Homo sapiens: one gene and its partner. The protein of the gene in region 1 interacts with the protein of each later gene in a biochemical or structural test. Each region holds a gene or a part of one and is shown in the gene's direction. Other genes may lie near its edges.

Evidence for each region.
Region 2: the proteins of PPP5C (region 1) and CRY2 form a complex in vitro, tested with the Homo sapiens proteins (one study listed by BioGRID).

What each region holds. Positions count from the first base shown.
Region 1 is NC_000019.10:46,381,795-46,396,274, forward strand, and holds the end of PPP5C (serine/threonine-protein phosphatase 5), read left to right. Parts: exon of another isoform or gene 1-730; intron 731-1,616; coding exon 1,617-1,682; intron 1,683-1,985; coding exon 1,986-2,084; intron 2,085-3,009; coding exon 3,010-3,115; intron 3,116-5,298; coding exon 5,299-5,441; intron 5,442-5,571; coding exon 5,572-5,659; intron 5,660-6,613; coding exon 6,614-6,654; intron 6,655-6,758; coding exon 6,759-6,937; intron 6,938-8,256; coding exon 8,257-8,338; intron 8,339-8,489; coding exon 8,490-8,552; 3' UTR 8,553-9,181; downstream 9,182-14,480. UniProt on the Homo sapiens protein: Serine/threonine-protein phosphatase that dephosphorylates a myriad of proteins involved in different signaling pathways including the kinases CSNK1E, ASK1/MAP3K5, PRKDC and RAF1, the nuclear receptors NR3C1, PPARG, ESR1 and ESR2, SMAD proteins and TAU/MAPT.
Region 2 is NC_000011.10:45,846,134-45,861,224, forward strand, and holds the start of CRY2 (cryptochrome-2), read left to right. Parts: upstream 1-1,341; 5' UTR 1,342-1,357; coding exon 1,358-1,572; intron 1,573-9,848; coding exon 9,849-9,957; intron 9,958-12,597; coding exon 12,598-12,740; intron 12,741-14,714; coding exon 14,715-14,899; intron 14,900-15,091. UniProt on the Homo sapiens protein: Transcriptional repressor which forms a core component of the circadian clock.

The sequences.
Region 1 (14,480 bases):
GCCACAAGAGGGAGGGGCTGTGTGAACCTCATCTGTAGTTTAGGGGCAGCTTTTATTGGAGTTTCTTTACCACCGGCTTTAAATGTGTTCAGAGTAGAATTAGGACTTTCCCTTCAGCAGAGCTTGGGATCTTAGCCCTGGCAGAATTCCAGGGATGTCTTTATGTTTTAAAGTCGCCAGCTTTTGGAACTGTGGGAGGCCTCTGGTATTCAGCCCTGCCGCCAGACTGTGGGGCCACTGGGGTGCTCTCCGCTCTCCAGTCTCGCCCCCACTTCTGTACCTCAGGAGGTTTCTCTGCACCTCACTCCCTCGCGCCCAACCTTCCATGAAGCCCGTGTGAGGGAGTTGGCAGGGGGCAGAGGCGGGCTGTGCTGGGGCTCCCTGGAGTCCTCATCTGTCACGCCAGTCCCCACACGGTCATGAACTTCCACTCATTTCCCCTCACGCAGGGCATCCCGCCCTGCTGCCTCGCACCAGGGTGAAAGCTGTGGGCTCCTTCCCCAAGGAAGGGCTCGTCCTGTCTGCATTTTGATTAATTTAGGTCCCTTTGCATTGCCAGCTCTCAGATGGCTTTACCTTTGATTTTGTTGCTTGTTTGGCTTGTTTTCATCTTTAGGGCGAGACAGTCTTTTGTAACTTTTCTACCTTCTGACTAGAAGTGGATGCCGCCTGCATTTTCTTAACACCTTTTTCCCCAGCTTATTTTGGAAATCGTCAGACCTACAGAGAGCTGAAAGAACAGTACAGTTAACATCTGTCCACCCTTCACACAGATTCACCACTTGTGAACATTTTAATGCATTAACTTTATGTGTCTGTCTACTTATTTATGCATTTGTATGTGTATACTTTTTTCTTTTTTTTCCCCTAACCCATTTGAAAGTAAGTTGCAGCCATCATAACCTGGATCTCCCAAAAACAAAGACGTCCTCTTGTGTGACCACAGTTGAATTGTCCTACCTTAGAAATTCATCATTGATGTGATAATACTGACTAAGGTAGACAGTCCACAGGCCATCCGGAAAATCTGGAAACATTGACAAATATGCATGTCATTGTCAAGGTCATATCCAATCTGTGAAAAATAAATCATCTGCATTTCTAGACATCTATTAGTATTTTAATTCTCCCCAGCTCTCCCCAAAACATCCTTTTTAGCTGCTTTTAAAAAATTCAGCGTCCGTTGAAAGCACCAGTGTTGCCTATGACCTGCCTTTTTACCTCTTTTTACCTAGAAAGTCTCACTTCTTTTTTGGGAGACTCTTTTATGACAGTGACATTGCGCTGTGTCCAGGCCAGTTCTTTTATAAAATGTTCTACGATCTGGATTCATGCATGTATTTCCACTTGATGCTGAGTATTTTAAGATAATTCAAGAATCAGGTTTTCGTACAAAACAATCGCAATGCTTCGGCACTGCACAGGCCACAGAAGCCTGCGGCTGCCTCCGGCCCCGCCTGCTCCCGCTCCCCCAGGCCTGCCCTGCCCTTTTTCTTCTCTCCCTGCTTCTCCCTCGCCCTCAGCCCAGCAGCGTCTCATGGGCAGTCCAGGCTTTCGGGGCCAGGTTGGGCAGCAGCCCCTGCAGCCGGTCCCACTGAGTCTGCCCTGCCTTCCAGATTCTGGTACAGGTCAAAGAGGTCCTCTCCAAGCTGAGCACGCTCGTGGAAACCACACTCAAAGAGGTGCGCGTTGTGGGGCAGTGCGGGGAGGGCCAGCGGGGGTGGGCTCTCTGGCTGGGGAGGGGCCACAGAGCTCAGGAACTCACGGATCCACCTCCCTCTCTCCCTCACACCCCACCCCTGTGCCTTTCCTCCTGAATATCCCATTTCTCTCCTGGCCTCTTGGTCTTCGTTTGTGTTCCCTGCTTGTGTCTCTTGCATGATTCTTCTTGGTCTACTGTGAACTCTTACCCTTCCCCTCACCTCTGCCCCCTCCCCACGTCTCTCTCTCGGCCCGTCCCTCTCCGGTGGCCTCTTTTCTTTCAGACAGAGAAGATTACAGTATGTGGGGACACCCATGGCCAGTTCTATGACCTCCTCAACATATTCGAGCTCAACGGTTTACCCTCGGAGACCAACCCCTATGTATCCTTCTCAGCAGAGCCACCCTCTCCCCACCTCCACCCCCAGCCGCAGCCTCAGGTCTGCACAGAGTGGGAGGAGCCCTTGCCAGGAAAAGACGTGACCTTGGAAAGGAGAGGCCTGGCCATGCTGGGGCACCAAGGTGTGGGTGGAGCTGCAGGCTGGCCATGCACCCCAGGCTCCAGGCTCGGACAGGCCTGGGCCAGCACCCACCTGCTGTGTGACCTAAGCTGGTAGCTCAGTCTCTCTGGGTCTTGGCTTGTCTTCGTCTGCCTCAGGATCACATTTGAATGGCACCTGGCACTGGCCACACTTGGGTTCCATCCTGGCTTTGCCACTTCCCAGCTGTGTGACCGAAGCAGGTTACTTCACTGCTTGGTGTCACAGTTTCCCCATTTGCAAAGAGGGATAATAATATGTGCAACCTTGTTACTCAGCAGTTACTGAGAGGACAGGTTAAGAACAGGGCCTGGCCCACACCTGATGCTATCTAAGTATTTCCCCGTGTTATGGTATCTGCTCGATGAACGGCCACTTGTAGGGCCACTAGGCCTATGCATTGTTGAGTGGGAGGGCCCGTGTCCCATCTCCCCCATGGCTCCAGGCCTCTCTGAGGAGAGCTGAAGGAGGTGGACTGACTAGTCCCCGCACCTCCCCGCCACTGGCTTTCCGGGAGACAGGAGGCAGGGTCCTCAGTGCCATACTACTGAGGCTCAGCGGCCAAGCTCTGGCTGGAGCCACGGTGAGGAAAGGATTAGAAACCCAGATCCCTTGAGCCCTGCCAAGTCCTCACTCCCTGGGAGGTGCTGACAGGAGGCTTGAGGCCAGGCAGGAGCAGCCCATCTGGCCCATCTTCTGCCACCACCCCCAACCCCACCGCACCGCACCCTTCCCCTCCACGCTTGCCATGTTTTCCTCAGCAGGACAGATATTTAATGGTGACTTTGTGGACCGAGGCTCCTTCTCTGTAGAAGTGATCCTCACCCTTTTCGGCTTCAAGCTCCTGTACCCAGATCACTTTCACCTCCTTCGAGGTGAGCTGGGAAGTGACAAGGTTTGGGTTCATTGTGGGGTCCTGAGTGGGGCACTCACTCTGCAAGGATAATAGTTGCAGCTGTATTTATTTTGTGGACTCGGAGATCATGCACAGGGCGACCTTTTAAGATTGAGTATGTAGTGCACTGCACAAAAGCATCACACCAAAGGACGCGTTTACATCATAGATAGTGTAGAAATGGATGTTTACTCTGACCATTTTTCAGCAGATGGCAAACAAGGGTGTGAGGATGGGCCCCTTATTCTAATTTGCACAAGGGCATGAAACAGGCTCCTGGGTGGCCCTAAATCTGGCACTAAAGCTGAGTGACTGAGTGAACAGACCAGGGCTCGAGGGTGGGAGTAAGGAGACTGTTGACGAGGCAGTTGTGCCCCCTCAGATTCAGGCTTGGTGTCAGATTTGGGTTCTCTTGATTGAAGTAGAGCCCGGAGCTGAGTGTGCTGGTTCACACCTGTAATCCCAGCACTTTGGAAGGCCCAGGTAGGAGGATCACTTCAGCCCAGGAGTTTGAGACCAGCCTGGGCAACACAGTGAGACTTTGTCTCCAGTAAACATTTTTTAAAAAGGCCAGGCGCAGTGGCTCATGCCTGTAATCCCAGCATTTTGGGAGGCCAAGGCAGGTGGATCATCTGAGGTCAAGAGTTCGAAACCAGCCTGTCCAATGTGGTGAAACCCCGTCTCTACTAAAAATACAAAAATTAGCCGGGCATGGTGGTACACGCCTGTAATCCCAGCTGCCTGGGAGGCTGAGGCAGGAGAATCGCTTGAACCCAGGAGGCACATGTTGCAATGAGCCGAGATTGCGCCACTGCACTCCAGCCTAGTCGATAGAGTGAGACTCAGTCTAAAAAAAAAAAAAAAAGCCAGGCATGGTGGCACCGTGCACCCGTAGTCCCAGCTTCTTGGGTGGCCAAAGTGGAAGGATTGCTTGAGCCCAGGAGTGTAAGGCTGCAGTGAGCCATGATCACACCGCTGCACTCCAGCGTGGGCAACAGAGCAAGACCCTGTCTCTTTGAAAAAAAAAAAAAAAGTAAGAAACTTGGAAGTAGAGCCCAGAGTATTTGCTGGAGGAACAGACACAGGTGTGAGACAAAGAGGGAACGAAAGGGGCCCTCTAGGGTTTTGGCCGGAGTATCTGGAGGGCTATGGCTGCCAGTGACGAAGACGGGAACATGTAGAGCAGGGTGTGGCCAGGAGCTGAGGAGCTCCCCTTTGGATGTGGCTGAGACTCAGGAGACATGGGATGTGGGTGGGGTTCCAAGGGGTGTTGAAAATGTAGGTTTCTTGGTGTCCAGATGAGATTAGACAAGAGGAGCTCACTGGGATGTGAGGGCCACACAGGGGAGGCCCTGCCCATGGCGGGGCCGGGGTGAGTTGGGAGGTGAGTGATAGGCTGGGGCGAAGCCTGCATGCCCGTGTCCCTGGGCTCACAGGGTTCACGCAGCAGTGTCCAGCACAGGGTCAAAGCTCAGGAAGCCCGACTGTGGGCCTCGTTGCAGGAGGCAACAAGTGCTCAGGCCGAGAAGTCAGACAAGCAGAGTCTGAGCAGATGCGAGACTGGGCAGCCTTCTCCTTGCCCCCAAGCTCTGGAAGGGAAGAAGGAGGCCGGGTGCTTGTGTCTGAGACAGAAGGATGGAGCTCAGGGTGGGGTGGGCTGGGGCACATGTTCTGTAGATGGGCCTACTTTTTGGTTTTGAGACGGTCTTGCTTTGCTCTGTTGCCCAGGCTGGAGTGCAGTAGCATGAGCATAGCTCACTGCAGCCTCTGCTTCGTGGGCTCAAGTGATCCTCTGGCCTCAGCCTCCCAAGTAGCTGGCACTATAGGCACGCACCACCATGCCCAGCTAATTTTTAAAATTGTTTTATAGAGAGGTCTCAGTATATTGCCCAGGCTGGTCTCAAATTGCTGGGCTCAAGCAGTTCTGCCTTGGCTTCCCAAAGTGCTGGAATTATAGGCGTGAGCCATGGTGCTTAGCCATGGACCTACTTTTTGTCAAGATTCCCCCCTTGGTACCTCCAGTCTGGAAGGCACCGCAGTGGCAAGTGCGAGGCCCATGGGGGCAAGGGACGCATGCACAGTTCTGGGCCTTGAGGGTGCCAGGCTGGAGGACACTGATGTACCTGGAGGCTGAGCTTTCTCTTCTGTCCCCGTGTTGGCCAGGCAACCACGAGACAGACAACATGAACCAGATCTACGGTTTCGAGGGTGAGGTGAAGGCCAAGTACACAGCCCAGATGTACGAGCTCTTTAGCGAGGTGTTCGAGTGGCTCCCGTTGGCCCAGTGCATCAACGGCAAAGTGCTGGTGAGGACGGCGCGAGCCCTGAGTGTGGGTTCCCCACCCAGCCACACCTGGGCAGATGTGCTGGTGAAGGAAGTTGGGGCCTGTGGGTGGGTGGCACCTTCCCTCACAGCGGCATCCCCCATCTCCCCAGATCATGCACGGAGGCCTGTTCAGTGAAGACGGTGTCACCCTGGATGACATCCGGAAAATTGAGCGGAATCGACAACCCCCAGATTCAGGTGAGCAGCGCGGGGCCAGGTGTCTCCAGCAGAAAGGGGCAGCCTGGGCTGAGCTCTCCCCTGCAACCCAGCCCTGCCTCGGAGGATGGGCTTTGTGCCCTTGGCAAGAAACAGCGGGTCTGAGCCTCAGTTTCCTCACCTGCGACTTGGGCCAGTGCACCTCCTTCATGGGGCTGTGATGGCAAGCACGGTCGTGACCATGGTGCGGGGTGAAGGCACGGTGACCGCCGAGCACACCTGTCCTTATTTATTTGTGAGTTCAGCTGTGGAACCCTGGAAGGAGGGGAGGTCTTGGGGCTCCTGTGCTAGTGACGGGCACACTTCAGAGAGTTCACCCACAGGTGCACACGCACGTGCACACTGTGAGTGCTGCAGAGGACATGGATTGGGTGGGCTGGTGCTGGGTGCTCAGGAAGGCCTCTCCAGGGAGGCGAGGTTTGAGCTGACACTGCGGGAAGCAGAGGCATCTGCCGTGCACAGAGCCTGGCGAGCATATTCCAGGCTTGAGGAGGGGTCCTAAGGCAGGGAGAAGTTGGCGAGTGGGCAGGGCTGTGCTTTGAGGGCTGACATTGGACATGGGGTTCACTGGGCCCAAATCCTATGGCGCTTTACAGGCCCCAGTGAGGAACTTTGTTCCTAGGGCAGTGCGGAGCCACCAAAGGCTTTGAGTGGGAGAGGGGCCTGATCTGAATAGTGACATTGAAAGCTCTATCTGGCTTCGGGGCCACAGGGGATTGAATGGGGTCTGGAGGGCAGATCAGCAGAGAGGGTGGGGGTGGCTCAGAATCACAGTCACCTGTCCTGAATGTCCATGTCCATGCTGGATGTCCCCTGCCCAACACCCACCCAGGCTGGGCTGTGGGGTCAGCACCTGGCCGGGCCAGGAGGTGGCCTGTGAGTGACCACCCCCGGGGAGGTGGACGAGTCCCTAATGTTTCCCTCGCTCCCCACCAGGGCCCATGTGTGACCTGCTCTGGTCAGATCCACAGCCACAGGTGAGTCTAGGGTGGGGTGCAGGGCCGGCGGGTGTGGGCTGTGGCAGCAGGTGGAGGCAGACAGTCACCCTGAACCCCTGTCTCTCCCTTCTGCCCACCCTCAGAACGGGCGCTCGATCAGCAAGCGGGGCGTGAGCTGTCAGTTTGGGCCTGACGTCACCAAGGCCTTCTTGGAAGAGAACAACCTGGACTATATCATCCGCAGCCACGAAGTCAAGGCCGAGGGCTACGAGGTGGCTCACGGAGGCCGCTGTGTCACCGTCTTCTCTGCCCCCAACTACTGGTATGTCTTTGCCTTTCCAGCCCAGGGCCTCTACCAAGCCACGGGTTTTTGTCTTGGTTTTTGTTTTGCCTTTTTATGATGGAACATTTCAAAGACAGGCAAGAGCAGATAAAAGAACATGACGAACACCCCCGTATGTGTCACCCACCCATGCAGCACCAGTGGGGCCAGCCTGTGAGTGCTGACCAGCTGCCCTGTGTTACAGCAAGCCCCTGGCACTTCACCTTTCTCCCACTGATTGCCCAGCACTTTTCAGAAGGAAAGGGATCTTTTTCTTAACCACAATATCGTGTTTACACTTTTGAGTGCTGGCTGGGCATGGTGGCTCACGCCTATAATCCCAGCACTTTGGGAGGCCGAGGTGGGCGGATCACCTGAGGTCAGGAGTTTGAGACCAGCCTGGCCAACATGGTGAAACCCCATCTCTACTAAAAATACAAAAATTAGCAGGGCGTGGTGGCACACACCCGTAATCCCAGCTACTCAGGAGGCTGAGTCAGGAGAATTGTTCGAACCCGGGAGGTAGAGGTTGCAGTGAGCTGAGATTGCACCACTGCACTCCAGCCTGGGGAAGAGTAAGACTCCATCTCAAAACACACGCACACGGGCAAGAGTAAGACTCCATCTCAAAACACACACACACACACACACACACACACACACACACACACACACACACACACACACACACACACACACACACACACACACACACACACACACACACACAGTGTTGATCCCTTGCCCCCACCCGAATCCTGCCAAGTTCTCTTTCTCCTGGTCTCTCCTAAGTGTCTTTTCCAGCTGACTTCTTCCAGACAGGACCTAAACAAGGACCACATTTTCAGTCTCTTTGCCTGTGAGTTCCCTGTCTCTCCCCACCCGCATCATTTATTTGTTGAAGAATAGGTTGCTGCCTGCTGTACGAGTCACCTGTGTCCTGGACTAGGCTGACTGCATCCCCGTGGTGCCGTGTGACATGTTCCTCTGTTCCCTGCATCTCTGGGTGGGCAAAGCTAGAAGCGTGGTCAGATTCCTAGTGGGGTCTGGCGAGCATCCACCTCCATGAGCTATGCCCTGCCCCTTCCTGCTCCTGCTTCCTGCACTCCCACCCTCTTTTCCCCATCCCCATCCTCCTGCCCCTCCCATTCTTTCCCCTGGATTCGTCTTTCCCATCTCTGTCTCTCTGTCCATCTGTGTCTGTTGTGGCTCTGTCCCTCCCTCTCCCTCTGTCCCTTCTTGCCCAGCCATTCCTTCTCTTAACCCACCAGCCCCACCCAGCCCTGACCACACTGTCCACTCTGCTCCTGTCCCTGCAGCGACCAGATGGGGAACAAAGCCTCCTACATCCACCTCCAGGGCTCTGACCTACGGCCTCAGTTCCACCAGTTCACAGCAGTGGTGAGTCACCCCTCAGGGCCCCTGCCCCTTCCATCCCGGCCTGGGGACAAGGAGGCTGAGACCCTGGTAAGGGGCAGGGGTAGGTTCTGCCGGTGGGTGCTCAGGGGCTCTGTTCTGACTTCTGTCCATCCCACCTGCCCTGGTCCCACAGCCTCATCCCAACGTCAAGCCCATGGCCTATGCCAACACGCTGCTGCAGCTAGGAATGATGTGAGGTGACGGGCGGGGCGGCCTGCATCCCAGGGCCCCTCCAATCCCACCGGACCCAGGCCCTGGGCTAGGGGCAGAGCAGGCCCCGCCCCAGGGCAATGTTGGACCCCCTTTTACTTTGTAAAGTTTGTATTTATTCCCCTTTAGGTTTGCAGAGGGGGTAGGGGCAGAGTCAGGGGCTGGCCAGAGGGTCTGCTCCCTGGACAGAGAGGAAGGAGGTGGAGCAGCTGGGGCTGGGGGCACAGCCTGGGCATTCTGTGGGGAGGCCGTCCTCGGGGTGGGGTGGGGCCGAGTGGCTGCCCTGCCCCCCTCATTTGCATGGCTCCTCCCCCACTCAAGCAATAGGGCCCCGCCATAGGAAGACCCCCAGAGAGAGGGTCAGCAGGGGGGCCCCGCCTGCGCCTCCCCTCCTATAGCCCCATGGTGGGGCTAGGCTGGGGCTCACCCCCCTCCCCAGCTATTTTATGTCTGTAATTAAATATGTTAAAATAAAGTCATTATCGGAAGTCAGCTTGTCTCTGGATGGTGGAGCCGAAGGAGCTGCCCGGGTTGGGTTACGCCTGCTCAGGAGATCCGGAGGGTGGGGAGGCCGCAAAGTCCCGCTGGCCGGGCCCACCCAGCTCTGGGCTGACCGCCCAAGTGGCCTCTGCCTCTGCCCAGCACCGTGGGCTCCTGGGGAGAGTTCTGCCCCCTGGGTGGGGCGATGAGGCCAGCACTGAGTGGAGCGGAGCGGAAGCTGAGGCATAGCCTCATCCTTTGCTGGCTCCAGCAACAAGCATGACAGTGCCGCTCCCTGCTCCCTGCTCAGGGTAGGCCCAGCAGTGGTTCTTGACATCACACGATGAGGCGCGCATCTCCCGTCATCCAGGGAGACCAGAGGACCCTTGTCTCACTCCCAGTTGGCTCTTAGTCACAGGTAACGTTGGATTCCATTCAGGCTGCCCTGCCAGGCCTTGACCCTCCAGAGAGATTGTGTTTTCAAGTTTGAGCTCCTCTGGACTCAGCTTTCTCCAGTGGTATGTGGCACTGGGGGATGGTCTACAGCAAATGACTCCTGCAGGGCCGAGTCCGGGAGTGTTTGGCCCTTTGGAGACCTCCCAGGCAGACATGAGGCGTCCGCGGTCCTGATTGCGCGTAGGCGCTGGGGAGGTGTTCTCTAAGGCCCATCAGCCTTACAGTAAGTGCACCGCCTTCTGGGGTCAGGTGCGCCACGGTCCAGAAGCCAAGTACACATGGCTTCAGGAAAACAGGCACGAGGCCCAGGTTGCCAGTGCCATTCATTTCTCCTGGGAAAGACAAAAACAGCCACCATGACTGTCGGGAGGGTGCTTCAGACCTGATGGGAGTCAGCCAGGCGGGCAGCTGTGAGGCTCTCAGACTCACTGGGTGTCGGGGTTCCCTGCCGCTGCAGTTCAGGAGGTCTCCCAGGACCCGGTATGGTCATTATCCTCACAGTGAGGGCCTATTATAGCAAGAATATGGGGATGAGAATGAGAGGAGGGAAGAGGCAGGCGCAAGCGTCCCACTGCCCTCTCCCGTGGAGCTGTGTGGACAGCGCTTATTTTCCCCGCATGGATGCGACAGCGTGCTGGAGTGTGGCCACCTAGGGAAGCTCACCCGGGCCTCTGCATCCAAGGTTTTCTTCAGGGGTTGGTCATGGGGACTGCTCACCCCGCGTGGCTGACCGTAGCCTCCAGAGAGACCCACGGCCCCCACCCTAAATCACATCCTTAGCATAGACTGTCCACTGTGGCCCAGGGCCCCAGATAAAGAGACGCTCCTATGAGGTAGGACACACCGAGGGCTCTCCGGTGACCTCCCAGGAGCCAGCCTTTTCTTCCGTCAGGGCTGCAGCCATGCTGCACAGCTGCATAACAAACACCCTAACCCCCCCCACCCCCTCAGCTTCAACAACGAATGCCTTGCTGTCTTCCTCAGTTCTGTGATTGGCTGGGCTTGGCCGTGCAGGGCGCACCTGAGGGCTGAGGCATTTGTGGTCGGGGGCATTTGGGGCTGGAGGCATCTGAAGACTCGCCCGGCTGGACTCCGTGGGGGCTCACTCCCGTGACGGCAGTTGCTGTGGGCTGTTAGCTGGGCTGGCACTGGAACGCCTGCGTGTGGCTTCCATGTGGCCTGAGCTTCTCTCAACGTGGCAGCAGGGTCCCTCAAGGGAGCATTAAATGTTTATATTTAAGTCAACCAACTGCATTCCAGCTGTAGCTCTTGCCTCAGCAATGTCCTGCCACACATTCAATTGTCTCTTTCATTTCCTTCAATCTGGAACATTTCCTCAGCCCCGCTTTGTCTTTGACATGGACGTTTGTGATGATCACGTTCCTCCCGCTCCCCGTGTCTGAAGAGTGCTCCCTGACTGGCTGCCGTCTCCTCCCTGTCGGGTCTGGCTGGGTTCTCCAGAGGGAGTGCTGCGGAGGGGACACAGCAGAGGCCCCATGCTCGTGATGTATGTTGCAGATCATTTTCCCCCATTCTGTCCTTTTTTGTTAAATTGTGGTAAAAAGCACATAACATAAACTGTACCACCTTAACCATTTGAAAGTATATATCCCAGACTGTCTTTTATCTTTAGACTTCACTTGTGGTTTGTTGCCACAGTACAAGTTTATTTTTATGAAGCCAAATGTATCAGTATTTCTTTAATTGTGCTGGCGTGGGAGTCAGTACTTCTCCCTACACCCGGGTTTCAGGGAAGTTCCCTCGGGTTTCTTCTGGTTTTTGTACAGTTTTCTTCTTTATGTCAAGATCTCCAGTCTATTTGGAGTTCCTTCTTGTATGTGATGTGAGGAATGGATCTAATTTTATCTTTTTCCAAGTGGATATTGGAGGAAGTTTTTAAACGAGAAGAGAAATTCAGAAGATGCTGCAAGAGATGGGACCTTTACGGCGATCAATGTCTCAGTAAAGTCAGAACAAAGAGACTCAGGCACACCCACCACAAGTACCAAAACTTTGAGCAGATCAACGCCACAGAGCTGGGCTCGGGAAAACGGAAGGGCCATGGGAGGGAGGGAAAGCATTTAATGGGGGAAGGTCTGGGTAAGCCGATAAGTTTTGGGGAATCAAGGGGGATAAATACACGTGAGTAGGGCTCTGAAGTTAGAGGCAATGAATTGACCAAAAAGAAACAGTAACTTCCAAAAGGGAGTGTGACGGAGAGATGCCCATAGACGCAGGTGATGAACATCCAGGGCTGGCCGGGCACGGGGGCTCACGCCTGTGATCCCAGCACTTGGGGAGGCCGAGTCATGTGGATCGCTTGAGCACAGGAGTCTGCTAAAATAGGGGACACCACTCTAGTTACAGTTTGGATCAGGGTCATCACGCTGGGGACGTGCCAGGCACACGGAGGTGGGGGAGATGCTGGGGGCTGGGGGCAGGTGTGGACACTAAGCAATGGTGTCAGAGGCTGCTGGGGAGTCTCAGGGTCTGGCAGGAGCAGATGTGGACTCCCAGGAGTCATGGACATGAATTAGGGGTCCTAAGAAGCCTCGCCACTGACAAAGGAAGCTGTGAAGGGAAGACCAGAGAACCGGGGGGAGCGGGGGTCTTAGGTGCTCCCCACCCCATCGACCAGGATGGACCCAGGCATCTGCCCAGCTGGATGGAACAGAGACTCCAAGGCAGGAAGGACCCGAGTTCTGTCTCCCTGTCGTTCTCTTGGACCCTTTCACGCTGTCTTTCCCCACCCCCATCTGTCAATGGCCATGATTAGATCACAGACCCAAGCTCTGGCCACCAGGGAAGGCAGAAAGATGACCTAACCTCCATAGCACCGGGTGGGGCCCCTGCCTCCCACCTGTGGGGGGTGTCAGTTGCTTGGCAGCCAGAGGGACAGAGGCCACCACCCCTCCCCTCCCGGCCAGCACCACAGATGGAGAAACTGGGCCCATGGTTCCCTCTGCCCACACCCTCCCATGGCTCTCATCTCCGTGGTCCAGCGGATGGGGGGAAACAGGTTGAGGAATTTGGACACTGGAAAATGGGTGGAAGCAGTTAAAACCTGAGGGGACCAGGAGGGGCAGGGTGGGCACCCATCTCAGATGAGTCGAAGAGCAGCAGGGTGATTTTCCATGCCCGGCCCCTTGGCTCTGTTCTAAGAGTTTACACGCATTAACATTTCATTCTAACTCAGTGAGTCAGACACTTTTCAGATGCCCATTTTACAGATAAGCAAGATAAGAAGTACAGAGAGGTTAAGTTACATGCTCAGAGTCACACAGCCAGCAAATGGCAGAACGGGACTTGAGCACCAGCTGACTGGCTGCAGAGTCTGTGCCCTGAGCCAGTTTGCAGTAGCATTGAGCACTTTATGTGTCAGGCAGTTTACAGGCACTTTGGGTCCTCGCAACAGCCCCATTTTACAGATGAGGAAACTGAGGCACAGAAGCAGCAATATACCTGAGGACACACAACTAGGAAGGAGGATAGAGCATATTCGGTGGGAGATAATAAAACCTTTGATGCCAAATGCTAAAATAATATTTGGGGAAAAGCTTTTGACCCCTTTTAGCAAACAAAAATTTTATGATGGCAAGAATTTATCCTGCTGGTTAATCTGATTTTTCCCTTTTTAGTACATGGGTGTTCCCTAACCTTACCCCTGAAGAGAAAACTCATGACTTCCCCCAGAGCTGTGCATTCTCAAAGCTTTTTTTTTTTTTTTTTTTTTTTTTTTCCTGAGATGGAGTCTTGCTCTGTCGCCCAGGTTGGAGTGCAGTGGCGCAATCTCGCTCACTGAAGCCTCCCCTCCCCCTCCTGGGTTCAAGCCTCGTAAGTAGCTGGGATTACAGGCGTGTGCCACCACGCCCAGCTAATTTTTGTATTTTTAGTAGAGACGGGGTTTCCCCATGTTAGTCAGGCTGGTCTCGAACTCCTGACCTCAAGTGATCTGCCCGCCTCGGCTGCCCAAAGTGCTGGGATTACAGGTGTGAGCCACTGCGCCCGGCCTCAAAGCATTTTTGTTAGCGGTCTTTTTAAGATTTCTCCACCGGGTGTGGTGGCTCACGCCTGTAATCTCAGCATTTTGGGAGGCCGCGGCGGGCAGATCACGAGGTCAGGAGTGTAACACCAGCCTGGCCAACATGGTGAAACCCCGTCTCCACTAAAAATACAAAAAAATTAGCCGGGCATGGTGGCACGTGCCTGTAATCCCAGCTACTCAGGAGGCTGAGGCAGGAGAATTGCTTGAACCAGGACCCAGGAGGCGGAGGTTGCAGTGAGCCGAGATGGCGCCACTGTATTCCAGCCTGGGCTACAGAGCGGGACTCCGTCTCAAAAAAAAAAAAAAAAAAAAAAAAAAAATTTCTCTTGTAACTGTTCTGTGATTGTCCACTGTATGGCGCTAGGGGGCGCTGTAACACCACGGTGTTTTATAGTCATTACAACACTCTTCCAGCAGATGGCGGCAAAGTGTTGGGGAAAGAGGGTGCCTTTTTGCCAATCCCCATATATTTTTCTAATTTTCTTTGTATGGTATGCAAACATTTCCAATGCTCAAAATTTGGTCTCAGCTACCATTCTAACTATTTGAGGCTTACGCTTCTCTGTTTCCCCTCCAATCTGGGCCGAAGTCTTCCTGTCAGTGAAACAGGGATGTTTAAAGGAGTTTTTTTGGGGCCCCTTTCCCAGAGCTGTCCTGATGGCCCATTTGGGGCAGTTTCTCTCTTTTTGGAGCGTGGAGCTGCTCTTAAGGCCCTGCCTGCTGGATTCTCAAATAGCATGGTGGACACTCCCCTCCAGACCTCCTCTGTGGGCCCAGCCTCCCCTCTCTTAGCCCCTTGGAGTTCCTGCCCCTTTTGGGCCCCAAAGTCCTGTCTCTAACTCAAAGACAGTTAGTTATCTGTGTTAAAATAAAATAACATGGGCCGGGCGTGGTGGCTCACGCCTGTAATCCCAGCACTTTGGGAGGCCGAGG
Region 2 (15,091 bases), on another chromosome or scaffold:
AAGAAGGTGACATCTATACTGAACAATGATACAGAGCAAACTGGAGTTAGAAACAAAGATGGAAGAGGGAGTGTGATCTAGACTGCTGGAACAGCTCGTGAAAAGCCCTGGAAATGACAGAGAATGCCTAGGATTGCAGTGACACTGGTTTAGAGAGTGGTGCCAATTAATGCCACTAAATTGCAGACTAAATTACTAAATGCTTTCATCACTCTGTCCCAGGTCCAGGAAGGGTTCCAAGCATGGGCTCAACCTAGGGTCAAGTTGAAACAGACTGTTTTCCACCTGATAACCCCAAAGCTGCAGCTTGACTAAGCCGTCTTAGCCCAAGAGGGTTCCACCTGGCGTCCCAGAAGAATGGGGACAGTGTCCTCCACATCTCTGAACCCTACCCGGAATCCAGTACAGTGCTTTGCACACACTGGATCTACTAAACAGACTAAAAGAAAATAAATTCATCTGATGGCATAATTACTATCTCAATTCAAGTCCCCCACATTCCCAGTCCTTACTCCCAAATCCTCTACTGCTGCATATTAGGGCACTCCTTCCCCGTCCTTAGACTCTGCCACTTGGAATTACCAAGGATCTTCGCACAAAGAGAAGTATAGCTTCGTGGATAAAAGCAGAAATTTCGAAATCAGAATAATCTGGGTGAAATCCTCTTAGCAGCTTTATGATATTGAATAAGTCACTCAACCTGCGGCACCCTCCGTTTTCTTCATCTGTGAAACGAAAACAACAGCAGCTTTTTCACTGGGGTTCGCTAAATGAATGTAACTGGGCTGAGTTGAGAATAGTAAATGAGACCGTCTACGTAAGGAGATGATCATGTCTCTTGCCATATAAAGTGCACTTAATAAATGGCAGCTGTAGTAGAATGATGTAGATGGTGATGGTGACGATGTTGGTGATAATAGGAAGGTCAGCTGTCAGTCTTGCAAGTCACTGGCTGTAGTCACAGCAACCCCTACCAGCCCAGGCAGCTTCTTCTAGAAGCAGGCCCTGAACAGGACGTGGGTAAGAGATCCGCTGTCCCTTGAGACTTGGCCTACTCCCGGCACTCCGCGGACAGCCCCAGCCTGCGGACAGCCCCAGCCTGCGTCACTTGTCCGCATGCCAGCTCCACCCGGGCGGACCCACACATGGTAGGAACGTGAGGGGGCGGGCCTGTTCCGGCGCCTCTGGGCCAATCGCCAGGTGGAAGGCACTCAGCCAATGGCAGAGGGGCTCTGGGGCCCTGTGGGCGGGGACTAAGGGTGGAGTTGCGGCGTCATAGGTCACTGGGCGGGCTATGGGCGGGGTCCACGTCGCCTACCGGGGCGGAGCGGGGGTGGCTGGAGCAGTCTGGACAGTCATGGCGGCGACTGTGGCGACGGCGGCAGCTGTGGCCCCGGCGCCAGCGCCCGGCACGGACAGCGCCTCTTCGGTGCACTGGTTCCGCAAAGGGCTGCGACTCCACGACAACCCGGCGTTGCTGGCGGCCGTGCGCGGGGCGCGCTGCGTGCGCTGCGTTTACATTCTCGACCCGTGGTTCGCGGCCTCCTCCTCAGTCGGGATCAACCGATGGAGGTGAGGGGACCCGGGGCTGGGTGGCGGGGACGCAGCCAGGACCCTGACCCTGGGGTGACCGGCGAACAGCACGATCCCCCCAACCCCGCCACGGCTGGAAGGCCAGAGGGGAGAAGCCGAGACCGGGGAAGTAATTCGTCATGGTCCTAACGCGCCGGTGGGCCAGGGTTCAGCCTCTGACAAAGCGCGTTCGCACTGTTACCCCTTTGAGCCTCACAACTGCCTGTGGAACGGAGATCATGATCCCCGTTGTACAGATGAGACCCTTGAGCCCTGGAGACCCAAAGTCGACCTGCCCAAGGACTTGTAGCCAGTGAGTGGCAGAACAGGGGCTCCTGGTCTAGGGCTCTTACGGTCTACTCAGGGAGGGGCGGAAGGGAGATAACGTAGTGTGAGGGCGGGACGGGTTTTTGCTCGCATTCTTCAAGAGCCCGTTGCTGGGCTCGGGGAGATCACTCCGAAGCCTCTGGCTCGTTTGAATCCGCCCTACCACCCATCCTGGCTACCCTGCACCCAGACCGTCCTGCCTCTAGGGGTGTCAAGTGACCCTGGCTTAGCATTAAATAAGGTCTTCTCCCCTATATTATAAATAAAGAAGCCAAAGGCGTCTTCAGGTGGAGTCGCTTTATGTTCAAAGCTCCAGAGAATCCAGGGGATTCTCCAAAATGTTTTAAGCCCTGCTCTGGAGCTTTGACCTCGATAGAAAAATTTAAAAGAATCCAAAGTGTCACCCCGTCATCCTCTTGTCATGATTTTAGAGGACAGTAGAGCCATTAGAGATGAGACTTTTATGAACTGTTGTGGTAAGGTTAGGGAGCAGGAAAGCCATGATATCAAGGGCCCCTCTGATGACCCCCCAGGAGATGGAGTCGACATGATCATGGAAAAAGATGAACAGGTCGTTAGTGTATTTTCACTGTAAACAGTATTCAAACTAAAGAGTTTTGAGACATAATGTACCCATCGCTCTTCAGAACACCTAGTGGCAGTCGCTCGGTTTGTTTGCATTGTTCTGGGGAATGTTTGCTTGTGGCCTTGTTGCATCGATGGACAGGGTTATTTCCAGGATACCGTGGCTCTCGGCACACCATTCTTTTCTCTCCAAGGTGTGTGCCCTGCTAAGAGAGTGAGTGCTGCTAGCAGTGGGCCTGTTCAGTGTCCCCTCCTGCCCAGAAGGAACAACTAAGGAGTCCTGTGGAGAGCCTGCCCACAGTTTTCAGGCTGCCTTATTGCTCTGTCTCTGCTCCAGTTTTCTACAGATAGGAGGTTGGGTTTGACAAGCATCATCAAATGACCATCCCTAGTGTGCACATTAAGCCAAGCCTCAGACTTTGCCCTGCACCAGTCGGAGCCAGGCAAATGGAATCCGACTACCTTCTTGTTACATTGTCACAGAGTTTCTTCTTTTATTGGGTTTTGGGGGACATTGCATAGTACTGCCTACTCTTTTTTGATAGGGAAGATTAAAAATCAACAATAAAATTCCTGTTGATTAAACTCCAGTTTGCTAGGAACCAGGTGTTTATGGATTTTTGTGGGTCATCATTTTGTGATCGTGCTATCAATCTAGTGAAGAAGAAAAGGAATGTGGCTCAGATGCCTGAGTCAAATCCTGAAGTCAGAGGCTGTGTAAGAATGCAGATATTAATTGATCACTTAATAAGTGCCTAATATCTGCCAGGTACTGCTCTAGATGTTGCTAGGGATACAGCAGTGAATAAGCAGATGTGTCTGTGCTCCAGAACTCCTGGAGCCTACATTTTACCAACAAACAACCATAATTTAGTGAAACGAAGTGCCATGAGAAACATAAGATAAGGGGACAGACTAGAGCAGTGGTTCTCAATCTTGGCTGCTGTGCATTGGAATCCCATAAGGGTCTTTAAAAGATACCTGGGCCCCTTTCCCCCAATTCTATTTTTTTTTTTTTTTGAGACGGAGTTTTGTTCTTGTTGCCCAGGCTAGAGTACAATGGCGCAGTCTGGACTCACTGCAACCTCCACCTCCCGGGTTCAAGCAATTCTCCTGCCTCAGTCTCCCAAGTAGCCAGGATTACAGGTGGCCATCGCCACACCTGGCTAATTATTTTGTATTTTTAGTAGAGACAGGGTTTCACCATGTTGGCTAGGCTGGTCTCAAACTCCTGACCTCAGGTGATCTGCCCACCTTGGTCTCCCAAACTGCTGGGATTACAGGGCATGAGCCACTGTGCCCAGCCCCTTTCTCCCAGTTCTGTTAGAATTGTTCTGGGTTATGGCCTGGGCATTAAGGTTTGGGGATTTTTTGTTTTGTTTTGTTTTTTGTTTTTTTTTTTTTTTGAGACGGGGTCCTGCTCAAGTGACAACCCAAGCTGAAATGCAGTGGCATGATCATAGCTCACTGCAGCCTTGACCTCCTGGGCTCAGCGATCCTCCTGCCTTAGCCTCCCAAGTAGCTGGGACTGCAGGCATGCACCACCATGCCTGGCTAATTTTTGTATTTTTTGTAGAGATGGGGTTTCACCATGTTCTCCAGGCTGGTCTTGAACTCATGGGCTTAAGCAATCACCTGCGTCAACCTCCCGAAGTGCTGTGATTGCAAGTATGAGCCACTGTGCCCGGCCTTGGGCATTAAGGTTTTTAAAGCTCTTATTGCAGCAAAGCTTAAGAAGCACTGGACTAGAGAACCTCAGTCCTGAGACGGGCAACCTAGGAAGTATGTTGCAGTGCATTGGCAGGAAGTCTAATTAATGTTGGCATTCAGAAGAAAGAGATGAAGTAACACAAACAGATTGAATATAATAACTGCTCCTGGGCCTGGAAACAGACACACTCCTACCACCTCCACCATTCTGCTTGCTTCCTGGATCAGTTGAAGGCAGAGCTGCATTCTCTTTTGTGCACAAAGTTGGGGATAGAGGGGAGGGCTGGAGCCAGCCATATCTTGACATGACTGTAGTATGTGTAATCGTCCCGTGGTTGTTTCTGGATTCCAAGAGTGGTCTAAGAGAATTGTGCTGCAGCATAATGTCCTAGCTCTGCAACTGCTTAAGTTGTCTCTGAGAAGCCTCCCTGGGAAGGGCAAGGGACCATCTGCAAGGAGGGGAGGACCCAAAATCTGTGACTCTGTTTCCCTCCTGCTCCTTCTACACTGACTCCCACACAATGTTTTTCTGCAGAGGAAATCAGATTAAAATAACTATGAATGGCACTAAGAGTAAAAACGGACAGAGAAATGCAACCAAGAAATACACATATTGATTAGCAAGAAGAAGCCTAGCATACTTCTTGCCCTGGTGATGGTGGGAAGTTTACGGGCTAATTGTAGCTATATGAGCCTCAGGACTTTTTTTTTTTTTTTCCAAGTGCTACTTGGCTAAGCCCTTTCACATTTTCCCCAGCCTCACCTTCCCCAGATTTGCTACATCTAGAAGGAGGTACTGCAGCAAGAAGATAAACTAAAGGAAGATGTGAGCAGTTCCTAGATTTTAAAATGACCTCTGTGGTTTTTCATTACCTTTCTCTCCCCACTGCAACTTGGATAGGTGTTAGCAACAGTTCCTCTTCCACTTTATTTAAATCATTTTGTCCCTGGCTCTGTGCTGCGCCTCTTTCAGGAGCTTCTGGGACAGAGGGAATTTGTAGAAATAAAATATGTTCCCTCTCAGCCCATTTCTCTTAGAATTGGTAAATGAGGTAAACTGGGAACTTCCCAGGATGCCCCATGAGAACAAGTGTGTCTCTCTTCCCAGATGCTGAGAGCTGAACACTGTTGGACTGTTGGGAAGTGGATTGAGAACGCTAGTCTACTGGCAGGGAAACAGGAGCTTCTCTGAGCTATTCACATTGGTACCTGAGAGAGGCACTTTACTGTTCTGCTGCCAAGGAAATGTTTCTGTTTGCCCAAAGGGGATAAAAACCTTCATCTTTCTCTTTGAAATTAGGAAAGAATAAATATATTTTTAAAATAATAAGAATTTAATATTTAAGTATTTCTAAATATCACTCAGATACTTAGAAATAAATCCCTGCCAGAGATTGTGAGTTTAGGTTATCCTTTTCCATGGGGCTTAAGCTCTCTTAATTACTTAGGAAAAATTAATTTCTATTAATATCCTATGTAGCCAATCTGTGCCAGCCAGTGGTATCATCATCGTTGTTAGATAACCTTGCCTTGAAGCAGAGGAACTTGGTCAAGGACAGCCTGGACCCAAAAGAATTCACTGTTATCCTCCCTCCCCCCATTAACAACAAATAAATAAAATATTCCTCAACACAGGATCAGCCATTCCTAGAGAAGGCCTTCCCTAAATATGAGTACTTAATCAAAGGATCTGCTTGTTTTATTCTAAAAGGCTAGCCTTGTAGAGTCCCTGAGTTATAGTGTCCTCTCTATATTTTTGGAAATCCCAGTCTGGTTTTCTCCAGTTCTGCCTGCCTCTGGCTCCAGAGCACTTACATAATAATGTAATTCAGTTGCACATGTTGTCTAATCCAAAGGGTAAGCTTTGCTCTCCCAGGACCATGTGCTCTGAATTTTGGCCATGTGAGCTCAGCTAAGAGCTGCCAAGGGTGAAGTGCCAGCCCCCAACACCACCATCTCCAATGCCCAGGCCAGTTTCCTTCAGAGTCCCCTCATTGGAGTAAAGAGAAATTGGAGTAAAGAGGAGGGTTCTAAGGGACCACAGAAGGCCCAAGGTTCTCTCTGGTGAAAGAATGCATATACCTGCCCACTGAGCCTTTGCCCAGTCGCAGCACTGCTCCAAATGTGAGGGACAGCTGTCACCTGGCAGGCCTCAAAGGTAGTACCCTAGTGGTGGCTTCTCATTCTCTGCATTCTCTGGCTGCCTGGAGTCTGGAGATACTGGGGACCCTCCTCACATCCCTGTCTATTGCCTCCGTGTGGTGGCTGTCCTGAGCCCTCCCTTCCCGGGTTGACTCGGGAGGGAAGTTGGAAGAAGCAGAGCATTTCTAGCAGGCCAAAGGGGAGGCAGAAATATGGATGCTCAAGAGAGAAAGTTTAGTACAAACAAACTAGAAGCAAAGAAAGGCAACTTGTAACAGAGACTAGAAGTAAAGTTCAGTTTTCTAGAGTAGTGCTTGTGAAACTTTAATATGCAAATGAATCACCAGGGGATCTTGCTAAAATACAGATTCTAATTTTGGAGGTCTGGGTTAGAGCCTGAGATTCTGCATTTCAACAGACTCCTGGGTGTTTCACAGCCAATGCTGCTGATTGTCAGACCACACTCAGAGGAGGAAAGATCTGGCAGCAGAGGTGTTGCTGGCCTTTGAGTTGGCCTGTGGTGCTCCCTAATGGCTGAGCCCAGGGCAGCACAGCCTCAGTGCTCTGTTTGTTGAGAGGCAGTGGCTGGCTAAAAACGAACATGTCAAGCCTGACAGATTGCCTAGGTTTGAATTCTGGCCACTTACTAGGTATATGATGTTGGGCAAGTTTCATAATCTCTCTATGCCTCAGTTCCCTCATCTATAAAATGGGAATAATAATATTACCTACTTGATTGGGCTGTTTGAGAATTAAATGAGGTAATGTATGTGAAACAAGTAGAATAGTGCCTGTCATTGTAAATGCTTATTAAATGTTAATCATTGCCATTATTATCATTATTTTTATTTAGTTGCTGGGTTCAGAGTTGGGCCTTCTACCAGCCTCACATCTCTGCTTCCTGCTATAAACATCTTTTGTGAAAGAAGAAAAGGGCTCTCATAGGATTAGCTGTACTTTAGAGATGCTACGAGGAATCTCTCCTTTTAGTAAATGAGGTCTAAAAATAAAGTTCTATAGAAGGCAGATTGCTACATGTTCTGGAACCTAGATTTCATGTGCATTCCAACCTTATTTATAGCTTCAAATCAAAGTCCTATGCAGCCTGGTGGACTGTGAAGGAAAAGACCCCCAAAGCGCATGGCAAGGACACTCCTGGGAGCTGCAGATGGAGGACCCTGTGTCCTGGGGTTATGAAATTTAAATCACTGCTCCTAGCCCTAGGCATTCTACCTGGCAGGGTCCAGGTTTCAGATGGCATGAGACCATTTGCATGGATTTCTCTTCTTTTCCTTCCAGAAGAGTGGTGAGGCTTGGGGGAGGCCAACACAAGTGACGCACTTGCAGCTCCCTGTTCCTTTTCTGGAGGTGACAATTTTTCAAAAACAGAAATTCACAGAGGTGGAGCTTTTGGTTTGCATAAAGCAGCATTCAACCTGTTTGTCTTCCATCCCAACCTCTCAGAGAGTCTTCCTCATGCTCTTTTGCAAACATGATGCTTTGAGCCGAGGCCAGGGCTCAGCCCATGCTAGAATGTGGGTCGGTGGCATTGGCCGTAGGAGTGTGTCAAGTTGTGTACGTCAGAGGCAGCAGTGGGGGCTGGTTCTAGTTGGCAGCCTGGGAATAGTCACTGCTTCTGTAAGCCTCCAGTAGTCAGGGAATGTGACTGTGATGTGCCATTTCTATTGTTGACAGAGAAAAATGCTGGGGATGGGTGGAGACCCAAGGGGTAGATAGCAGGTGCCTCAGAGGTATCTGTGACATATGCAGATTGACCTGTGGGTTCTTGAAGAAGAAGATAAGAATGCCAGTGGATTACCTGTAGTCACATTGCTATTAGAGAACAGGATTCCAAACTCCTGAGGGCCTGCAGAATCTCAGCCCCTGGAACAGAGTTGGTGTGCAACTAGAAATCTTTAGAAATGGGGCACAGAACCCTCACGGTGGCTCACGCCTGTAATCCCAGCACTTTGGATGGCTGAGGAGGGCGGATCACTTGAGGTCAGGAGTTCAAGACCAACCTGGCCAACATGGTGAAACCCCATCTCTACTAAAAATATTGTTTAAAAAATTAATTGGGTGTGGTGCACATACCTATAACCCCAGCTACTCGGAAAGCTGAGGCAGGAGAATCGCTTGAACCTGGGTTGGGGAGGTTGCAGTGAGCCGAGATTACGCCACTGCACTCCAGCCTGGGCGACAGAGCGAGACTCTGTCTCAAAAAGTAAATAAATAAATAAAAAAGGGCACAGAGAGGAAAATGTGGGTTTCAGAGTGACCACCCTAGGTTCCTGAATCCCCAGCTTTGTCACTTAACAGCTATGGTCTTAGACAAATTAATTCACCTCTGAGTGTCTCAGTTTCCTCATCTATAAAATAAGGATGGTACTATTTCCTTCAAAATAGTTGAGAGAATTAAATGCAGAAATGCACTTAAAAAGCATGACAGAACCAAAATCCCATTGATAACCTTGGTTGCCTCTGGGGAGTGAGGGAGGGGAAAACCCTTTCTACTATGTACCACTTTGTCACTGGAATTTTGAGCCACATGAATAGTTTATCTGGTTATAATGTTAATTTAATTTAAAAATAAAACGCTGAAGGCACTCAGCAAATGTTAATGTCCTTTCCCTTTCCCCTGGTGATCCAGGTCTCCTGCTGAAGTTCTTGCCTAGCTGCGGTCTTCCCCACCCCCACCCCCACAAAAATGTGAAGATAGCTATTGAGAAGTACCTTTTAAGGCCTTCTCCCTCTTGGGATGAGAACCTGATCACCAGAGCCCTGGAGAGGCCTGGAGAGTGAGCCACCTGCCAAACAAAGCTCTGGGAACTAGGGACCCATTGCAGGCTGTGAGGCTGTGGCAGCAGAAATACGCATGGCCCAGAGCATGCATGCAGAAAGTCAAGGAGTCTTTTCCACCAGAGTAAGGAGGATTTTCCCGGCTGTGGCAGTCTGGTCCTCTGCTAAGAGGACCTTAATGCTTCATACCACAGTATTGCACTGGCTTTTCAGATGGCTCCCACGTGAGTCTCACAACAACCTCATGCTGGGCAGATACTTATATCTAGCCCCAGAGACTGCGAGGGAGTAAGTGACTAGCCTCTGATCACACAGAAACACCACACTAGGAACAGCTCACATTTATCTCATGATGTCTGTGTGCCAGGCACAGTGCTAAATGTTTTTCACACATTATTCGATTTTCTTTTCTTAGCAATTTTATGAGATGGGTACTAACATCAGCTTCACATTACCGGCGAGAAAACAGGCAAAGAGGTTAGGTTATTGCCTAAAGTCACACAGCTAGTAAGTGGCAAGACCAGGGTTTGAAGCAGAGCAGCGCTGATCCACTACCACATCCCTCCTGGGCTGGAACCCAGGCCTCTCCAGCCCTAGTGATCATGAGGCTGCCTGTTGGGCATAAACAGCGAACCAGTTTCTCCCTGCTTTGTTAGGAAAGAGAGCCACTCTTCATGATGTTATCACTAACAAGGCCTGTGTGGACTCCACAGGTTCCTACTTCAGTCTCTGGAAGATTTGGACACAAGTTTAAGGAAACTGAACTCCCGCCTGTTTGTAGTCCGGGGACAGCCAGCCGACGTGTTCCCAAGGCTGTTCAAGGTAAGCGTGCAGAGCCCCAGAGAAGACAGTGAGATTCTGTCCCTGACGGTTTCCCCACAGCCTGAGTGATATGATATTCCGACTGAGGGAATGGAAACATCAGGGCTGGTCTGGCTGTTGCTGCTAGAGAAGTTGGGAGCAAAGGCAGCCAGTTAGCTTGCTCTTGGAATGGAAACTGTGTTAAGGAAAAAAATTCTGGGAAACCAGTGTCTTGTTGGAAAGCTCTCAGCTCAGTCCAGACATAGGATGTGGTAAGTCATTCCACTCTGGATGCCACTGGCTTCCTTCAATGTTTTCTTGGCTCAAGCCAGCCAGATTTATTAGGGTTCCTTCTAGGCCAAGACTTTGAGGTGGGGTTTCATGTCTAGCAAGGTACATTTCCCATCTTGCTTTGCTCTGCTTATTGGGAAAAGTCAGCCTTTTCTGCCGGGCGAGGTGGCTCACGCCTGTAATCCCAGCACTTTGGGAGGCCGAGGCAGGCGGATCACGAGGTCAGGAGATCCAGGCCATCCTGGCTAACATGGTGAAACCCCGTCTCTACTAAAAATACAAAAAATTAGCTGGGCATGTTGGCTGGCACCTGTAGTCCCAGCTACTCGAGAGGCTGAGGCAGGAGAATGGTGTGAACCCGGGAGGCGGAGCTTTCAGTGAGCCGAGATTGTGCCACTGCACTCCAGCCTGGGCAACAGAGCGAGACTCCGTCTCAAAAAAAAAAAAAAAAAGGTCAGCCTTTCTGAGGAAGCTTTCTTGTTTCCCATGGGGTAAATGATTGATAGAAATCTTCATTTTGGTGCCACATAGGTTTCTGTTTGCAGTAACGGGGCCAGTCCACTTTTCCCTCAATCCCTTTAAAAAGTATATTCTAAGGCCCACATAGAAGCACAGGAACTCATGGACAGAGGGCTGTGGGACAGACTGCCATCACCCTCAGCAGCACACAATGATTGTCATGCCCCTCCCCACCCTAACTCCGAGACAAAAGGAAAAGTCATGTCAAGGCAAACAGCTTAGTGAATACATCATCCTTCAATTCCCCTCCCCGTAACCCCACACATAATTGTGCATACATGTACAAATCACACAGTGCTAGTAATTGCCCACATTCATTGAGGGCTGCCTATGAGTCAAGCGCTGTTCCCAGTGCTTGTTTACATCAACTGAGTTCTTCCTCACAGCAGGCCTAAGAGGTGGCTACTGCTATCCCGATTTACAGGAGAGGAAACAGTCATTGGTTGTGAAGTTAATAAGTGACGATCTTGGATTCTGACTCTAGAGCTGTATCCTTACCCACCATACCATATAAATACATTTGCCTCCCTTCTCCCCTCGACATTGCCCTTTTTCTCCCCCAGCAACTCAGAGGCCAACCCACTTATATCCCAGAGATATAGCTAGGTCATCCATTCAGTCATGTAATGTATTTTTATTGAGCTTCTGCTAGGTACTAGGCCCCATACTAGGTATAAGGGTAATGATGATGAGTGAGACAACATGGTTTCTGCTCTGAGAGTTCACACTAATAGGGGAAACAGGCAAGTGTATCATTGTCATATAATACATGCTGCAGTGGAAAAAAGACAAGGTGCAGAAGAATTATATTGAAGGAGGAGGTCAAGAAGGCTTCTTGGAGAAAATGTAATTTAATAATATTGTTATTCACAGGTTACAATGAGTATTCAGTGATGTAACCTATATGAACTATAAGCATGGTACCTGGCATATAGCAAGGGCTCAATCAATGTTTAATGCTGATATCCTCGAATGAGGGATAACTGGCCCTGCTAAGGACCCAGTCCCCGGGCAGGGCTGAGTCAGGACCAGACCAGCCTGTGCATGGCTAGGACATTTGCCCCTGTGGTTCAGAGCTTTCAGAGACTATGACCAGAGACTTTGGAGAATGTGTTTTTCTTCTTGCAAGTTGCATGCTCTAGGGCTTTCTGTGGGTTGACTGTACAACCATTCACTGGGCCAGCTTGCTATGAGATCTAGAAATTCCTACCAGAAATGACTAAAGGCTTAGGAAAGAACTTCCTCCTTTTCAACATGTAGCCCCTCTGGTCAGTTTCCTCTGACCTCCAGACTAAGGATCGCTTCCCCTTTCCTGACTCTCTCAGGGCTGGAACCTATTAGCTCTGTTTGCTATTGGCCTCAGGAGTGTTGCTGTGGAAACAATTAAGACACTTCACATAGCACAACTCTGCCAAGAAAACTAGGCCACAAGTCTGCAGGGCTGTGAGGAGCTCTGGGAAAAGCTTGCTGAGCAGGCAGAAGGCTGTGGTCCTGTCCCACCTGTGAGTCAGTGCCACTCTCTGGGACTGGGGGTTTCCCAGGAGCGTTGTATTTATGGCCTCCTGCTGCATTCTCCTACCTCAAGGACACAGCAAGTGCACAAGGCTGCCTACCTCTCTCCCAACTCCACTGTTGCTGTGCTGTTGGCTTCGCCACACTGCCTGCCCTCCTCAAACTTTCTGAACCTCAGCTTGTTTGCTTTCCAGATCAAATCCCTGTTCCTAGTTTTTTCTGCTGCCCATCAGATAGGTCTCTAGACTAGCTCTGTTCTCTCCCAGGAAGGAACTGAGAGTCCAGCTTCCCCCTCCTCCCCAAACACAGTGTTGAGCATAACAGATCCTCTCCCCACAGGAATGGGGAGTGACCCGCTTGACCTTTGAATATGACTCTGAACCCTTTGGGAAAGAACGGGATGCAGCCATCATGAAGATGGCCAAGGAGGCTGGTGTGGAAGTAGTGACGGAGAATTCTCATACCCTCTATGACCTGGACAGGTAAGAGATGGGGCCCAGGGATCAGGTTACCAATTGTGAGAGTTAGTAATTTGGGCCCCTGCTGAGCGGAACTCAGAGAGGTTCAGCATTAGGGCTACCTGACCCAGGAGGCATGGCATCTTCTAGAAGCTGGAGGAGAATAGGCCAGAGTCAGGACCTGTAGAACAGGTCACAAAGAGCTTTACCCCATTGAGGTGGCAGAGAGGCTTGTTAGGCCCAAAGCATGGAAGCAGTGAGGACCCACACTCAGGGTATTTACAAATCTGCTCCTAGTATGCCCGAGTCCCACCTGTGCCTCATATTCCCACTTCCATCCTGCTCAACAGCTGCCCTCTGACCTCAGTGGACCCTGTCTGTTACCCCTCCAACAGACCTCTGTTCACACAGGTCCAGTTTTTGTACCTAAGATGAGTTCCTAGGCTGGGCATGCTGGCTCATGCCTGTAATCCCAGCACTTTGAGAGGATCACATGAGTCCATGAGTTCAAGATCAGCCTGGGCAACATAGTGAGACCCCCGTCTCTACTAAAAATAAATATATTAGCCATGCATGGTGGGACATGCCTGTAGTCCCAATTACTGAAGAGGCTGAGGTTGGAGGATCACTTGAGCCCAGGGGCTTGAGGCTGCCATGAGCTGTGATCATGCCACGTCACTCCAGCCTGGGTGACAGAGCAAGATCCTGTGTCAAAAAAAAAAAAAAAAGAGTTCCCAGGTTCTATGACTATCTGGGTTTCCAGGCCATGTTGCTTGGTGGCGGGGAGGGCTCTAGAGATCCCTGCAGGGAGCTGCTAACTACAGAGGAGCCTCCTCCCCTGGTGACAGCCTCTGTGCTTTCAGAGATTCTAGGAGGAAATCCTCTCCTCCCCTTCCCTGCCATGCCAGAGCTGTCACCCTCCTGCTGCTGCTGCTGCTGTTGCTGCTGCTGCCAAGCCAGCAGCCGCCGCCGCTCCCCACCCCCACTTCCCAACCCAGTGCTGGCTGCCAAGAAGCCAGGTCACACAGCTGTGCACGTGAGCCGGGCCCTCAGGAGGAGAGGCTGGGTGTGGAGATCCTCCTCCTGCTGCGTGCCAGAGGAGAGGGAGGCATAGCAGAGGCAGCAGCCGACCATATATCTCCACTAACGTGGGGAGAGCAAACTGAGAAATGAACTCACCCAGCCAGATGGGCCTTGCGTAAGCTACTTCTTGGCCAAGAAGAGCCCCGGGAATGTGGCTCCATACCATCCCAATTCATCCTTATATAAACAGCCTCCGTTCTCTTCTTCGCCCTCTGATACTCCTTCCTTCTTGCATGAGTGCAGTTATGTTTTCCCTGGTCATGAAAAATACTTTGTAAACTACAAGACTCTCTTTAAGTATCAGTTGTGGCTATGAACTCTAGCTCCAGTCTCTGAATTTGGGAGGATAAGCTGTCTTCCACCTCTCTGTTCAATGTTCTAATAAATGGAGGCTAAGAAGGGGATGATTTTCCAAGAAAGGAACATGTCTGCTATTCCTTATGATGTTAGAGTTAAAAAAAAAAAAAAAAAAAACATGTCTTCAGCTCTTATCAAAGAACTTTCTCCAGGGCTTACATGGGTGGTAGAGGCCTATGGGGATTCCCTTAGCTTGGACAGATAGGCCAAGTGCCAAGCAGGCTAGTAGGGATTTTTCTGTGATTAGAGATTTTGTCAGTCTCTGTCTTTAGGCGGCTCTGCGTCAACACCAGGGAGCCCGGAATTGAGTCCCAGCTCTGGCCCTGCCTTGCTCCATTACTGAGGCACCTGCTTCAGCTCTCTGGGCTTTATTTTCCCTCTCGGTAAAATGGAGATGCGGCCTCCCTTGCCCCCTCCTTTCCACTCAGGCATGGGACCTGTGAGTGGATGAGGAAAGCCACCCTCAAAGCCTTCAGAGTCTGGGTTCTTTTTTGGGTGGGCAGGGACCCACATCACAGGGCCATGTGGGTAACACTAGCTATGCTTTGGGCTCCCCAGGATCATTGAGCTGAATGGGCAGAAGCCACCCCTTACATACAAGCGCTTTCAGGCCATCATCAGCCGCATGGAGCTGCCCAAGAAGCCAGTGGGCTTGGTGACCAGCCAGCAGATGGAGAGCTGCAGGGCCGAGATCCAGGAGAACCACGACGAGACCTACGGCGTGCCCTCCCTGGAGGAGCTGGGTGCGTACTTCCTGCCCAGAGCCACTTGTGCTGGTGCCTGCTTTTGTGTAAAGAAATTCTTTGTGAAAGTAATGCATGTCATTATAGAAAGGTTAGAAAGCACAGGAAAACAAAAATGGAAATGGCAGTCACTATTACTCCACCACCCAGAGGTAACCACAATTAATTTTAAACTGTGTCCTTCTAGTATTT